Homo sapiens: one gene and its partners. The protein of the gene in region 2 purifies or fractionates together with the protein of the main gene of each other region. This does not show direct contact. Each region holds a gene or a part of one and is shown on either strand. Other genes may lie near its edges.

Region 1 (3,500 bases), on a different chromosome or scaffold from region 2:
GAGTTAAGACCCATAACCCTCTGAGCTGGGCAAGTAAGCACTGTTGTGCCCCAGGCTTTGTGAAGGGTTTCACTGCCCCAGAGTGACCACAGTAGTAACCGAGAAGGGCTGGTACTATCTTTCTCCTTGTCTGTGTGAAAACAGGACATACGATAATAGATTTTGCTTTCCATTTCCTTAATGTTTCATGTAACACAAGAAAACAATCTGGTATGTACAGTGGCCAAGAGGCCCCACCATCCATCTGGCTTTTTGTAGGGACACACATAGGCTCATATTTGCTAAACACGCCTCACTGCAGCTATGGAGGAATAGTACAGCCAAACAATGGCATACGAGTTCCACCCACAAACCCTACAGCCCCAGAATGGCTGCGGGAAACAGGACTATCTCCACCTGGAGGCCCAACAAATACAGGAAAAGCTCAGGAGTCCTCAGAAAACCTAGGGCTTTCAGACTCAACTGGCCTAGACCTCTAAATTTAAAAATTACAAAGTGAGACTGGATTAGAGAATTTAGGATTTAGAGGATGGATTAGAACTATTTAAGGTAGTCTCCACCTCCCCTAGTAACATGCCTGCCCACCAAGACTTCCCCATTACCTCTTTGTCTGTAAGAGAATCCACATCTATCATTTTGGTCTGAATTGGAACCAATGTTAGAGGTTCAAAGGTCAGGCTTCCCCGGTTATTAAAATTATACTGCGGGAGAAAGAAGAAAACAGATGCTTTTACTCCTCTTTACTATGCTGAAGCACCATGAGGTCATTCCACCAGCATGCCATCCCTCAGAGCCAGGGGTAACTGGGAGCCAAGAAGTGGTGAGCTGGTCACCACTTTTCACAGACACACAAGGAACCTGATGCCATTTTCCAAGAGCTCCTCCACTGGGCAAACAATGGCCTGTGCCATCAGGAAAGGCCAAACAAAGGGTGCTGAGGGGCTCCCAGCAACAGGTCCCAAGGCTAATGTCTACTGTGATAGGAAACAGGGGCAGGATATGGGGGTATCTGGGCTTAGGGGCATCTCTGGTTTTGGTTCTCCAGGATGCAGGGGTGTAAGTCCTCAAAATCATTTTTATAACAGTCAACTGTGTGGTCTGCCTTGACCCAGCCAGGCCCATCAGGCGACAACACATCTATCCACTGGAGCACACAAGAACATGTCGGGTTTCTGTTCATGGCAGCTTTTGGGAATAAGATGGGAGGTCACTTCCAAGAATAGTGACTTCCATGCCAAAGCAGAGAGCAGATCCCCGCAGTTAACCTCCTTGTAGACACAGGAAGCTACTTCCCTCCAATTGTTCAATTCCACCAATGGAGGAGGCACAAACAGGTCTTTTAGGTAAAGCCTAGAGCCTAAAACCCTGCAACCTTGGTAACACTGATGGGGGAAGAGGGTGAAACACCTGTCTTGTATTGCCTTTGAGGCTGACCCATGGATAACTCAGGGTTCCTCAACTTTACCTAATAAAAGTCACCTGGGGAGTGTGACAAAATTACAGCTTCCAGGCCCCCCACCCTGGAAATTCTAGGGTCTGGGAGGGGCCCTGGAAATTAGCGCCTTGAATAGGCACCCCTAGCAGAAGAGACAACAGGCCGCCTATAGTAAACTCAGAGCCCCAAATCATGTGAAGCAAGCATCAGCCTGAGGGTCTGTGAATCCCAGTTCTAGATCCCAGTTCATTAAGGATTTTCTTTCTGGCTTTGCAGGGAAGGAGTGTGGTTTCCAGGAAAGTCCCTGATATCTGGAGAAGAAGGCTCCATGTTGGCCCCAGAATGGCATACTCTTGGCTCCAAAGACATTAAGTCTTCATCTTCCCACACTAAGAAACAGGAAAATTTTTAAGCTTTGCGCAGTGGCAGTATTGTAGCCAATGAGGTCTATCCGAGGCGTGATTATTGCTAATAGAAACAGGAAAATTTTTTTAATAAATCCTCACCTTGGTCTTCACAGGAACCACAAGGACAACATTCTCAATGCGAATTCCAAAAGCCCCATCTTCATAGTACCCGGGCTCTAAAACAAACCAAATCCCAAAAATGAGAAGCAGCCCACGATGAAGATGTCTACAGAGAGAAACTTTCACTCCTTGGATGACTGCCCTACTCCAAAGGAGAAGAAACGGGTGAAGAGCCCACTCTATCTGGTGTAAGAGCCTAGAGATGCCACCTTCTCTCATATGGCCACTTTTTTATAGGCACTTGAGGTGCAGAAAGCTAGACTCTGAAGTCCCTGCACACTGGCTACAGGGTAAGGAGTAAAGTAACAGTGGATCCACTAAATAAATCATGGTTCACATCCGTAAGACACAATAATGAAGGCATTAAAATATATTTACAAAGACTTGGCAATGACCTGAGAAAAGGCAATGTATCAAGTAAGAAAGCAGAACATAAGACAAGATGCCCAGTAAGATCTCAATGATTTAAAAAAAAAATGCTATCTACATACCTGAAAGACCAAAAGCTAATACAGTAAAACACTAAGTCATGTTTCCCCTGAGTGGTTAGATTGCAAATGATTTTCATTTTCTTTTTACACAGTTCCCATCTCATTTTTTCTAAAATGAACATGTATCAGTTCTATAATCAGAAAAGTTTGTTGGAAGGGAAAAGTATTGCCAATTTACTTTAAACTAATTAAAAAATACAAAACAACGAATAGCTTTCAAAAAGGCTCAAGGATCCACGCATGCCCTCTATGTGAGGGACACTTACCATCAGTGACAATCATGCCTGCCTCCAAGGGCTCATCAGAGAATGTTTTGTAACTGATGCCGCAAGGACCCTCATGGACATTCAAAAAAGACCCAACACCATGTCCAGTCCCGTGCAAGTAATCTAGGCCTGAATCCCATAAAGCTGAACGGGCAAAGGAGTCAAGAAGGTGACCTGAAAGACATAAAGAGCCACTTAATTGTATTTGTACAGCGCTTTAGAGATTAAATTTATTATGTGTGGCTCCAGAACGTGAAACAGAAACCAATAGGTAAGTTACTGGAGGGTTCAGATTTCAGCACAGCACAAGGAAGAACTTTCTAACAATCAGAGCTCCTGAGAAACCATCAGAGCTCAGTCTGAAGCTAGGCGATCATCCATTCAGGATGCTGGTGAGCGGGGATAGACACCTACAGCACACAGAGGCCGTATCAGACATGGACGTTCCCTTGCCAGCTCTGCGACCCTAAGGTTTCAGAATTACAAAGATGAGACTCTAACCAGACTGCAAGCAGACAGGCAGGCATGACAGATGAGGAAACTGAGGCCTAGGGAGATGAGTACATGTCTAATCTACCCAAAAGCAAGGCAGCCCAGGTCTTGTCAATGCCCAGTCCAATGCTCCACCCACCAGGCCTCAAGCAAAGTAGTACATAGCTGAAGTCAGGGTCCCAGTAAAATAAATCCTAAGAATCCCGAAAGGAAGCACTGGCCCAGTACTAAAGGGCAGACAGGAGGCTGCACCAACTTCCACTCAGGCCCTGTGACCTTCATATCTGGT
Region 2 (3,500 bases):
CTGGGCGACAGAGTGAGACTCTGTCTCAAAAAAAAAAAAAAAAAAAAAAAAAGGAATATTTGAAGTCTTACTGTTTCCTTCCACCTCCTGAATATGCTTAGCACAGGTCCACACTGAATATTTAGTGAATTAATGTCTGTTATATTAACATCAAATTGGGTTCCACAAATGAATACGTATCCCTACATTAGAATATCTAATCCTGAAAGCCTGATACCACAGGCTGACAACAACTATCCCAACACTTTAGGAGATGGATAGTAGAGGTCAGAGAGATTGAACAGGATGGCTTCTGTCCTGGTGTCGTTTAATATTTTAGTTATATAGTAATTTGTCTTATGTTTCATTTCACATGTAGGGAATTCCAAATGAAAGCTGGAGAATAACAAAGATAAATGAACGATATGAACTTTGTGATACATACCCTGCCCTCCTGGTTGTGCCAGCAAATATTCCTGATGAAGAATTAAAGAGAGTGGCATCCTTCAGATCAAGAGGCCGTATCCCAGTAAGTAGGAAGTTTGGATGAGCCTTTGCAAGTGCTTTTTTACTCAACATAATGCTGAGATTAATGAGTAGGAGAATGGATTCAGGATATAAATAGCTACAGCAGCAGGTCTTTCATGGGGATATTGGAGATTGATTTATTTAGTAAAGTTAAAACTGGAAGAAAGACTTAAAGAGGCTTCCAGAGAGTGTGATATGGGTATTAGATAACTGCACAGAATTGCATGATTCTTCACTGAAAAAGTTTGCTGTGTGTATTAGTCACTATTTATTTATCTTATTGTATATTCTTTAGTCATGATGATAAATGTTCTTTTTTTTTTTTAAGTCCTAGAAAGAACACCTTACAGATTTATAACTGGATCTTAGAAAGATGAGCTTAAATAATTTTAGGTACAAAATTCATAGATTCTAAAGGCTTTTAGAACTGAGCAGTTTTACTAATATATTAAGTGGGGTTTACTTAGCCCTGTTTCACAGTATTTTTTTCAGGAGATAACATTTCCCAATAATCAAATACTTTCCTAAATCAGTATCTGACTAAAGAATTAGACCAAGTTTTCCACATCCCAGAATTGGCTTGAAGGAAAGGTGATGATTTTTCTTAGCAGCCTCAGATGTCCTTTCATGGCCAGGCTTTGGATCCAATTAGAAAGCAGAGCTTTACTGAGTACTGTTTTTGAGAATTATAAACAGAGAAGTATGTAAAAGGTGTGTTACCATTTTTTCCTCATTAAGGTTTTATCATGGATTCATCCTGAAAGTCAAGCCACAATCACTCGGTGTAGCCAGCCCATGGTTGGAGTGAGTGGAAAGCGAAGCAAAGAAGATGAAAAATACCTTCAAGCTATCATGGATTCCAATGCCCAGTCTCACAAAATCTTTATATTTGATGCCCGGCCAAGTGTTAATGCTGTTGCCAACAAGGTCAGATGGTCTCTTAGTAATTATAATTATGGTTTCATGAATCAGCTGAGTTTGGCAGGGCCACAGTGTAGTAAAAAGAGCTCAGGCTCTACAGTGGTAAACATATAGGTTCTTGTCTTGGCTCTTCAACTTGATGGTGTGATTTTGAGTTAGTTATTTAACCTCTTTAGACCTCAATTTGTTTATTGGTAAAAATGAGAATAATAATAGTTAACAGTGTTGTTTTGGGAGCAAAAATCATTTAATAAAAAATAATGCATAAACTTTTGCTTACTTACATAATAACTAGGTGTTCAGTTATTCTTAGCTTCCCACTTCTCCAAAGTTGACAACTAACTGAGCTTATGACTCACTGAAGTCCCTGTATAGTACTGCTCTAGGAATAGCGAACTAGTGTTCTCGGTGACTAGTGGTGCCCTCTTCTGACCGTCCTCCACCTGAACAAGTTATTCAGACTGAAGAATTGGCAGTTAGCTGTAGCTGATTGTTCCAGCAGAATAAATATTAGCATTGTGGAAATTGAAATTTTGGTTCAGTTGACCAAATCTATAGGAGGAGGGAAGGAGAGAGAAGACATAACTACAGCAGCAGGTACCATTACTGAAAAGCGCTCATCTTTTCAAGTGTACATTTCAGTGCTTTTAGTATATTCACAAAGTTGTACAACCATGCCACTACCTGAATCCAGGGCATTTTTATTCTATGTGTTTCGGTGACAGGTTCTGTATAGTTGTTACCACTGCTGTCTTTCTAGAATGTTGCAACAAATTTGAATTGAAAGTTCCTGTCTTATTCCCACTCTTCAGAAGTAATCTTTAACAGGTATCCCTTGAAATACTGTAAATTCTATAATTGTGCCAAACGATTTCCCAGACTCTCAGTGTCAGAAAGGAAGCTGAACTTCTGTTCTTTCAGTAGTTTGTTGCTGGTTATGAGTTGGTGGTTTTGTTGTTTCAAAGGTGTGGGTCATATAATCACTTAATTTTGTATAATTTACTGCTCCAGTATTTTCCTAATTTGTTTCTATTAGGGCTCTAAGAAGTATAATTTTACACGAGTTAGGTAGGAGATAGAATATTTTATTCATGAAATATAAAAAGATTAAGTCCAGAAAAATAAGGTTCTTCTTTCTAGCCATAGCTTATTTTGAACACCAAATATTTTCTCATTCTATTTTGTAGATGTAGATTTAAGTCTTTGAGAACATTGATGATGATAGCATTCTGTGCTTTTATCCTTGTTCTGTCTTTTTATTTAAAGAGAATTATGTGGTTAAAAAAGAAGCAGGTCATTTTGATTGCAAAGAGTTTATTTCTCAGATATGAAGATTAAAATGAGGTGAAGAGGCAGGGAGGTGAAGAAGCATAGGTGAACCAGACATGTGGTCTCAGCACATGAAACTTACAGTCTGGTAATTTCAGTATATATGAAAGGAAGTCATCTGTAAGAACTTATGTTTGGGTAGGACTTGGCGTATGGGCTGGGAAAATTTAGTGCTTTACAGTGTTTAAATACCTTCCTATGTGTTTCATATTTAATTTTAATAATGGCCATATGGGCAAGTCAGACTACGTATATATTCATTTTGTAAAGAAGAACACAAGAAAGCGAGTGGTTGTGCTAAATAAGTTGTCCTGAGCCATCCACATTTTCCTGTGGAGTTTTCCTTGTCTCCAGTAATATGTATCATCTTTTATGCTATTGGATATTTTATGTCACTTGTTTACAGATGTGCATTCATTTATGATTTTCCATGATGTGTGCTTTTTTCCAGGCAAAGGGTGGAGGTTATGAAAGTGAAGATGCCTATCAAAATGCTGAACTAGTTTTCCTGGATATCCACAATATTCATGTTATGAGAGAATCATTACGAAAACTTAAGGAGATTGTGTACCCCAACATTGAGGAAACCCACTGGTTGTCTAACTTGGAATCTACTCATTGGCTAGAACATATTAAGGTGGGTGTGTGTTACTATATCCCAAACAAAGACTCTCTCTACCCCTTTGTTTATATTAGCTTTTTACTTATAATTGCAATCAACATGAAGGTACCTTTCTAAACAA
Region 3 (3,500 bases), on a different chromosome or scaffold from region 2:
ACCTCTAGCCATCAGTGGCGCCTGTCTCATTCTCTGCAGGTGATGGAGGAGTTGCAGGCCGCCTCCGTGCACAGTGATGAGAGGGAGCTGCTCCAGCTGCTGTCCACCCCGCACCTGAGGGTAGTCACACAGAGCCCCTGCCCAGCCATGCCTCTGGGTCTCCTGGGATGGGGGCGGAGGGAGCTCTCCTAATGAGGCTGAGGAGTGGAGACTGAGGGAGCGATCCTCAGCACTAGTGTCTGGGCAGTTGTCTCTCTGGCATGGCGTCTGCCACCCTCCATACCACCGGCCAGCTGCGGCCTGCTGACCCTGTGAGCGGCGGGCCAGCCTTCCTTTTCTCTGGCTTTCCCGGCAGGCTGTGCTCATGGTACATGACACGGTTGCCCAGAAGAATTTTGACCCCGTTCTCCCGCCTCTGCCTGACAATATCGATGAGGATTTTGATGAGGAATCGGTGAAGATCGTCCGCTTGGTGAAGAACAAGGAACCCCTGGTAGGTGCTGCTGCCTGCCCCTCTCTAACCCACTCTTCCCCTGCCTCTCACCCCCACCCAGAACACTGGACAAGATCCTCCCCGAAGTCTTCAGAGTGAGTGACGGCAGCTTTGCCTGCGCTGCTGCTCATCCCTGTGGTGCCTCTGTGTGCAGGGCACCCCTTTCTCTAGGTGGATACAGCCCCTCTCAACTGTGGCCAACACCCTTTGTGTAGTTAATAACCTGCACAATTGTACAGGGTGACCCTGATCATGCTTTAAGCCAGAAATGGACAAACTACAGCCCAAGGGCCAAAACCAGCCCACAGCTTATTTTTTAAAATAAAGCTTTTTTGGAGCACAACCAGGCCCATTCACTTACAGATTGGCTGTGGCTGCCTTTATAGTGCGATGGCAGAGTTGAGTCGTTGTGACAGAGACTGTGTGGCTGGCCTCAAATATTTACATGTGGCCCCTTATAGAAAACGTGTGACAATGCCTGCTCTGAATGTTGAGGAAGCACAGGGCATTCCTCTCCCCAGCAGACAGACTGCTATCACTTTGGTCCTGGTTCAGCATTGATTTACCGAGCAAAGGGACAGCGTTGTTTATGAGATGCTCAGAAGTGGTGGAAGCCCAGAGAATTGAGATTGGCTCCAGAGGATCCCACAGCTGGCATTCTCTATTTCCAACTTTCCCCAAATGACCTCCGACGAGCCTCTTCTGCAAACAGACGAGGATCTCTCCTCTGCCTCTGTTTCCTCACTTGTAAAATGGAGTGGCCATCCATTGATTTAGCAAACACATTGTGAGCCCTCCTATCCAGGCTCTGTATTGGGTGCTGGCGGTTCAGAGCTGAATAAATGATGGATAGCGATGCTGGAAAGTTCTCAGTTCTGGGGGGCTAGAAGTCCTGAGGTTCTTAGCTGATGGCCTCTCTTTCTAGCAATAATTATCTTACGTACTTCAAATAGATGGCACAGATGATGTTAACAATAAGTGTGCAAATGTGTTTGCAGTTACAGCCACTAATAAGTGGTTAACATATGTTGAGTGCTTACTGTGTACTAAGTGCCTTGAGTGGAATCCTTGCAACAACACTGTGAGTTAAATGCTGTCCCACATCTCACAGGAAACAGGCTTGGAGAGGATAAGAGATTTCCTTGTTAAGTCCACATGCTTTTTGTAAACGGCAGAACTGTGTTCACACCCAAGGCTGTCCAGCCCTAGAGCTTAGCTCTTAAGCTTTCTGCCGTCCTGCTGCAGTCCGGCCTGTGTGGTGCAGGAAATCGAGGGCTCGTTAGTGCCTTTCTCATCCTAAGTGTCATCTCTGCTGTGCTTCATGGGCCAAGTCCTGGTCCCGAAGCCCTGGCTGGGGTGCATAATTGGTTTCCCTCAGCAGCAGCAGAAGGCCCGGTAACCCTGTGATTGGGTAGAGGCAGGGTGAGAATTAGCTGGCACGTGTCATCCTCATTATTAAATGTCTTTGCAAGTGGTAGGAACTGTGATATGAGAGAGATGTGATGGAGAACTTACTGGATTTGGCATCACAAAAAGCTTTCCCCTTTACCAGCTGGGTGACCTTGAGGATATTTAACTTCTCTGAGCCCCAGTCCCTCATCTAAAATGTTGCAGCATTATTGTGCCTTGTAAACTGTACAGTGCAGGGCTATATTAATGGGGGATGTTGGTTTTGTTTTGTCTTCAGCATTGGGAAGGTCCCCACTGATCTCTCTGGACTGTCAGAGGGAGGGACTGGGGAGGCTGTGTTGGGTCCAGAGAGTAGGGGTCTGAGGTTTGGAGCTGCTGCTTAAGAACCTGTCTCTTCTGTCTCGGGTTCAGGGTGCCACCATCCGGCGGGACGAGCACTCAGGGGCTGTTGTGGTGGCCAGGATCATGCGAGGAGGCGCAGCAGACAGGAGCGGTGAGTGGCGGCAGTGCAAAGCTGGCCCAGCCCCGATCATGGCCATTGTTCCAGAGCCCTCCACCTTTGCTAATAGGTCCCCTTACCTCCCTCCTATCAGGTCACCTGTTTGGGATTTGCTTTGCTTTCTGGGGTTGTGGCTGGAATTCTCATCTCCTTCCCAAGTCAGTAGAAATTTTAATAGAAAATATAGGCCAGCTGGGCATGGTGGTGCACACCTGTAATCCCAGCACTTTAAGAGGCCGAGGCAGGCGGATCACTTGAAGCCAGGAGTTCCAGACCAGCCTAGCCAACATGGCGAAACCCCATTTCTACTAAACACACAAACCTGGGAGGCGGAGGTTGCAGTGAGCCAAGATCATGCTGCTGCACTCCAGTCTGGGCAACAGAGTGAGACTCTGTCTCAAAAAAAAAAAAAAAAGAAAAAAAAAAAAAAGCCAGGCACAGTGGCTCACGCCTGTAATCCCAGCATTTTGGGAGGCCGAGGTGGGCGGATCACCTGAGGTCGGGAGTTCGAGACCAGCCTGACCCACACAGAGAAACCCCATCTCTACTAAAAATACAAAATTAGCCAGGCTTGGTGGCACATGCCTATAATCACAGCTACTTGGGAAGGCTGAGGCAAGAGAATCGCTTGAATCTGGGAGGTGGAGGTTGCAGTGAGCCGAGATCGCGCCATTGCGCTCCCGCCTGGGCAACAAGAGTGAAATTCCGTCTCAAAAAAAAGAAAAAAAGAAAAAGAAAATATAGGCCATGCACGGGTGGCCCACACCTGTAGTCCTAGCTGTTCGGGAGGCCCAGGCAGGAAGATTGTTTGAGCCCAGGAGTTTGAGGTTGCAGTGAGCCGTGATTACACCACTACACTCTAGAGTGGGCGACGCAGTGAGACCGTCTCAAAAAAAAAAGAAAAAAAAAAAAAATATATATATATATAAATAGTCATGGAGTACTTTGGGGTGATTGAGAAAAAGCTCATGCGTTGGTTTAGTCCAAGGACTGTGACAGTTAAGAATATAGCATGGGCTTGCGGGATTACTAACTGTGGGACAGGGTTGACACCCTTCCCCACCATCCCAGGTCTTGTCAAGCTACTATTACAAAGAG
Region 4 (3,500 bases), on a different chromosome or scaffold from region 2:
TTGTTTGAGCTCCTTATATATTCTGGGTTTTGTTGTTGTTGTTGTTGTTGTTTTTGAGACAGAGCTCTGTTACCCAGGCTGGAGTGCAGTGGCGTGATCTCGGCTCACTGCAGCCTCCGCTTCCTGGGTCCAAGTAATTCTCGTGCCTCAGCCACCAAGTAGCTGGGATTACTGGTGTGTGCCACCACACTCAGCTAATTTTTGAGTTTTCAGTAGAGATGGGGTTTCGCCATGTTGGCCAGGTTGGTCTCGAAGTCCTGGCCTCAAGCAGTCCACCCGCCTCGGCCTCCCAAAGTGCTAGGATGACAGGCATGAGCCACCACACTTGGCCCTGTATTCTGGTTATTTATTTATTTGTTTATTTATTTTTCTGAGACAGAGTCTTGCTGTTGTCTCCCCGGCTGGAGTGCAATGGCACGATCTTAGCTCACTGCAACCTCCACCTCCCAGGTTCCAGGAATTCTCCTGCCTCAGCCTCCCGAGTAGCTGAGATTACAGGCACCCACCACTATGGCCTGGCTAGTTTTTCTATTTTTAGTAGCGACAGAGTTTCACCATGTTGGCCAGGCTGGTCACAAACTCCTGACCTCGGGTGATCTGCCAGCCTCAGCCCCCGAAAATGTTGGGATTACAGGCGTGAGCCACCCTGCCCAGCCATATTCTGGTTATTAATCCCTTGTCAGATGGGTAGTTTGCAAGTATTTTCTCAGGAGGAAGAAGAACTTAATAGGCACTGGATAATAGAATGTTAGAGTAAACCTACAAAATCTATGAGGATAAAGGAAAGGATTTTAGATTACCAGGACAGGATTTAACTTAGAGGTGGTGAAGCACTTCTGTGCTGGGAGCCATTTAAGAAATTACTAAAGAGTATAAAAGAATTCTTGGTTCTGCAAATTTTTCAAAAACTGGAAGAACAACTCTGGGTTTAATGTGGTTTACTTGGACTCTTTTCAGAAAAATAGCAGTGTGTCCTTTGGCCAGGAACTCAGTGAAAAAATAATAATAGTGTGGATTGGCTGACCTCAGTTTTCTCCCAACTCATACTTTTGAAATGCAAGCGGGCAGAATTGGGAAGTCATTTTCAAAAACTAAATTAGTTCAACTAATCCCTTCTTTAACTGGGTAATTTCTTTTCACATTTTCCTCTGTGTATGCTTCTGCTTGTTTGTTTTAAATAAGCACACTCATATCTTGTTGTTGCTTCTTGGAAATGATGCTACACCCTCTCCTTTTTCAGGCATACCCAGATGGAAGTAGCAAAGAAAAGAGAAGAGCAGCAATTGCCCAGGCCTTAGCTGGCGAAGTCAGTGTGGTGCCTCCATCTCGTCTCATGGCATTGCTGGGACAGGTAATTCAATTCCTGTAGAGGCCAGGTGTGGTGGCTCACACCTGTCATCCTTGCACTTTGGGAGGCTGAGGCAGGAGAATCACTTGAGCCTAGTAGTTGGAGACCAGCCTAAGCAACATTGTGAGACTCTGTCTCTACAAAAAGTAAAAAAATTAGCGGGTTATGGTGGGGTGTGCCTGTGGTCTCAGTTACTTGGGAGGCTGAGGTGGGACAATCACTGGAGCCCAGAAGATTGAGATGACAGCTATGATCATGCCATTATACTCCAGCTTGGGCAACAGAGTGAGACCCTGTCTCCAAAAATAAAAATAAATTTAAAAAGTGAACTCCTGGTACAATTTCCTAATTTCCTATGTATAAACTATGTCTTAGCTGAAGAAATTGTACACCCTAAGAATTGGGGACTACCTACAGAGTTGCTTATTCCAGTAACTGTGCTGTTCCACTCTCCCTCTTTCCTGGGAGAGGCAATATAGATTAGTGGTTAAGAACAAGCTCTGGAGTCAGTTAGAATTAGGGTTACCATAGAATTTATCATCCTGTCTGGAATATCGTTGAGAGTACAGTTGATCCCTATGCCAGAACACCAAGTGCAAATAGTAACTGTCCTGGAAAGATTGGAACAAATGCCCATCCTAGTTAGAATCCAGGCTTTCTCATTTACCAGCTATATAGTCTTGGCAAATTACTTAACTTTTCTGGTCCCATTTACTCGTCACAGTATTGAGAGTAAGGATTAAGAGAAATAATGTTCATAAACACTTTATACATTTCCTGGCACCTTGTAAATAGTAAATGGTAGCTGCTGGTGATGATTTTTTAAAAAATTACTAATAGTGTTGCCAGCATGGTCATTATTATAAAGCTACTTAGAGTAATAGATATATTATAAATAACAAAGGGCACAAGTGATTAATAGGGATGTTAATAACCTTTTTGCACTAAATCTGCATTTAGAAAAGGACCAAAAAGCTATTTGTTGCAGGCCTGCAGTGACTCTGAGATTCAAAAGTAAGCTGCTTTTTGGCCTGGCGTGGTGGCCCATGCCTGTAATCCCAGCACTTTGGGAGGCCAAGGTGGGTGGATCACCTGAGATCAGGGGCTCGAGATGAGCCTGGCCAACATGGTGAAACCCCGTCTCTACTAAAAATACAAAAATTAGCTGGGCGTGGTGGCAGGAACCTGTAATCTCAGCTACTCGGGAGGCTGAGGCAGGAGAATCACATGAACCCAGGAGGCAGAGGTTGCAGTGAGCCGAGATTGAGCCATTGCACTCCAGCCTGGGAGACAAGAGCGAGACTTCATCTCAAAAAAAAAAAAAAAAAAAGTAAGCTGCTTTTTGATTTCTTAATCAAACTAATAGCAGTGCATCGTTTAAGTAGTACTTCAGGGCTTACAGTGAAAAACAGTCCCATGTGCTTCCCTTCTCCACCTCTGATTCTTAACTTTCCTGACTTAGCTCCATAGCTGAATACCATGTTTATACTGTTATTACCTGATTTTTTTTTTTTTTTTTTTTTTTTTTTGGTCATTAGCAACTAACTTTCTTCAGCGAAAAATGATTTGTCTTATACCCACTCTCCTCAATACACACTTACTCTTCTTCTGGATTTTCAGTAGAGCTGTATCACAACTTTTGGTTCAATCTATATTCAATGTTTACATAGTTATTTTTATATAGCTATTGTTCACAGCTAAAAAATAATTACATGTAATTTCTTACATAAATTTTTATGATTTGCAATAATTATTGCTTATTTTTTCTTTTGCCTAGTTTTCTATGCACTTCTGCTAGTCCAGCCTGAGTATTTCTAGTAGAACCGTCAAAAGTCCTTTTTTTTCCGCTTGCTGATATCTTTCCTGAGGCCCTTCTCTTTTTGTTCCCATCAGGACTAGTTCTCTTGCATTGCTGCACAGTTACTGTACCAGGACTTCTCTCATCTTCATACTGGGAATTTTGGGTCTCTTATTTTTTTGGTAGGTCTTATTTATAGATTCCTCAGTTTTCTTTTTTTTTTTGAGACAGAGTCTCACTCTGTCGCCAGGCTGGAGTGCAGTGGCACGATCTTGGCTCACTGCAACCTCCGCCTTCTGGGTTCGAGCAATTCTCCTGCCTCAGCCTCCCGAGTAGCTGGGACCACAGGTGCCC

Evidence for each region. The genes of interacting proteins can lie anywhere in the genome.
Region 1: the proteins of MTMR2 (region 2) and XPNPEP1 fractionate together in Homo sapiens (co-fractionation; one large-scale study listed by BioGRID). This does not show direct contact.
Region 3: the proteins of MTMR2 (region 2) and MPP3 purify together in Homo sapiens (affinity purification with mass spectrometry, with the first as the bait; one large-scale study listed by BioGRID). This does not show direct contact.
Region 4: the proteins of MTMR2 (region 2) and SMU1 purify together in Homo sapiens (affinity purification with mass spectrometry, with the first as the bait; one large-scale study listed by BioGRID). This does not show direct contact.

Annotation. Positions count from the first base shown.
Region 1 is NC_000010.11:109,868,012-109,871,511, forward strand, and holds part of XPNPEP1 (xaa-Pro aminopeptidase 1), read right to left. Parts: intron 2,894-3,500; coding exon 2,720-2,893; intron 2,019-2,719; coding exon 1,942-2,018; intron 702-1,941; coding exon 603-701; intron 1-602. UniProt on the Homo sapiens protein: Metalloaminopeptidase that catalyzes the removal of a penultimate prolyl residue from the N-termini of peptides, such as Arg-Pro-Pro. Contributes to the degradation of bradykinin.
Region 2 is NC_000011.10:95,847,608-95,851,107, reverse strand, and holds part of MTMR2 (phosphatidylinositol-3,5-bisphosphate 3-phosphatase MTMR2), read left to right. Parts: intron 1-358; coding exon 359-508; intron 509-1,245; coding exon 1,246-1,434; intron 1,435-3,208; coding exon 3,209-3,394; intron 3,395-3,500. UniProt on the Homo sapiens protein: Lipid phosphatase that specifically dephosphorylates the D-3 position of phosphatidylinositol 3-phosphate and phosphatidylinositol 3,5-bisphosphate, generating phosphatidylinositol and phosphatidylinositol 5-phosphate.
Region 3 is NC_000017.11:43,826,647-43,830,146, reverse strand, and holds part of MPP3 (MAGUK p55 subfamily member 3), read left to right. Parts: intron 1-15; coding exon of another isoform or gene 16-39; coding exon 40-120; intron 121-355; coding exon 356-493; intron 494-2,314; coding exon 2,315-2,396; intron 2,397-3,500. UniProt on the Homo sapiens protein: Participates in cell spreading through the phosphoinositide-3-kinase (PI3K) pathway by connecting CADM1 to DLG1 and the regulatory subunit of phosphoinositide-3-kinase (PI3K). Stabilizes HTR2C at the plasma membrane and prevents its desensitization.
Region 4 is NC_000009.12:33,066,675-33,070,174, reverse strand, and holds part of SMU1 (WD40 repeat-containing protein SMU1), read left to right. Parts: intron 1-1,240; coding exon 1,241-1,351; intron 1,352-3,500. UniProt on the Homo sapiens protein: Involved in pre-mRNA splicing as a component of the spliceosome. Regulates alternative splicing of the HSPG2 pre-mRNA. Required for normal accumulation of IK.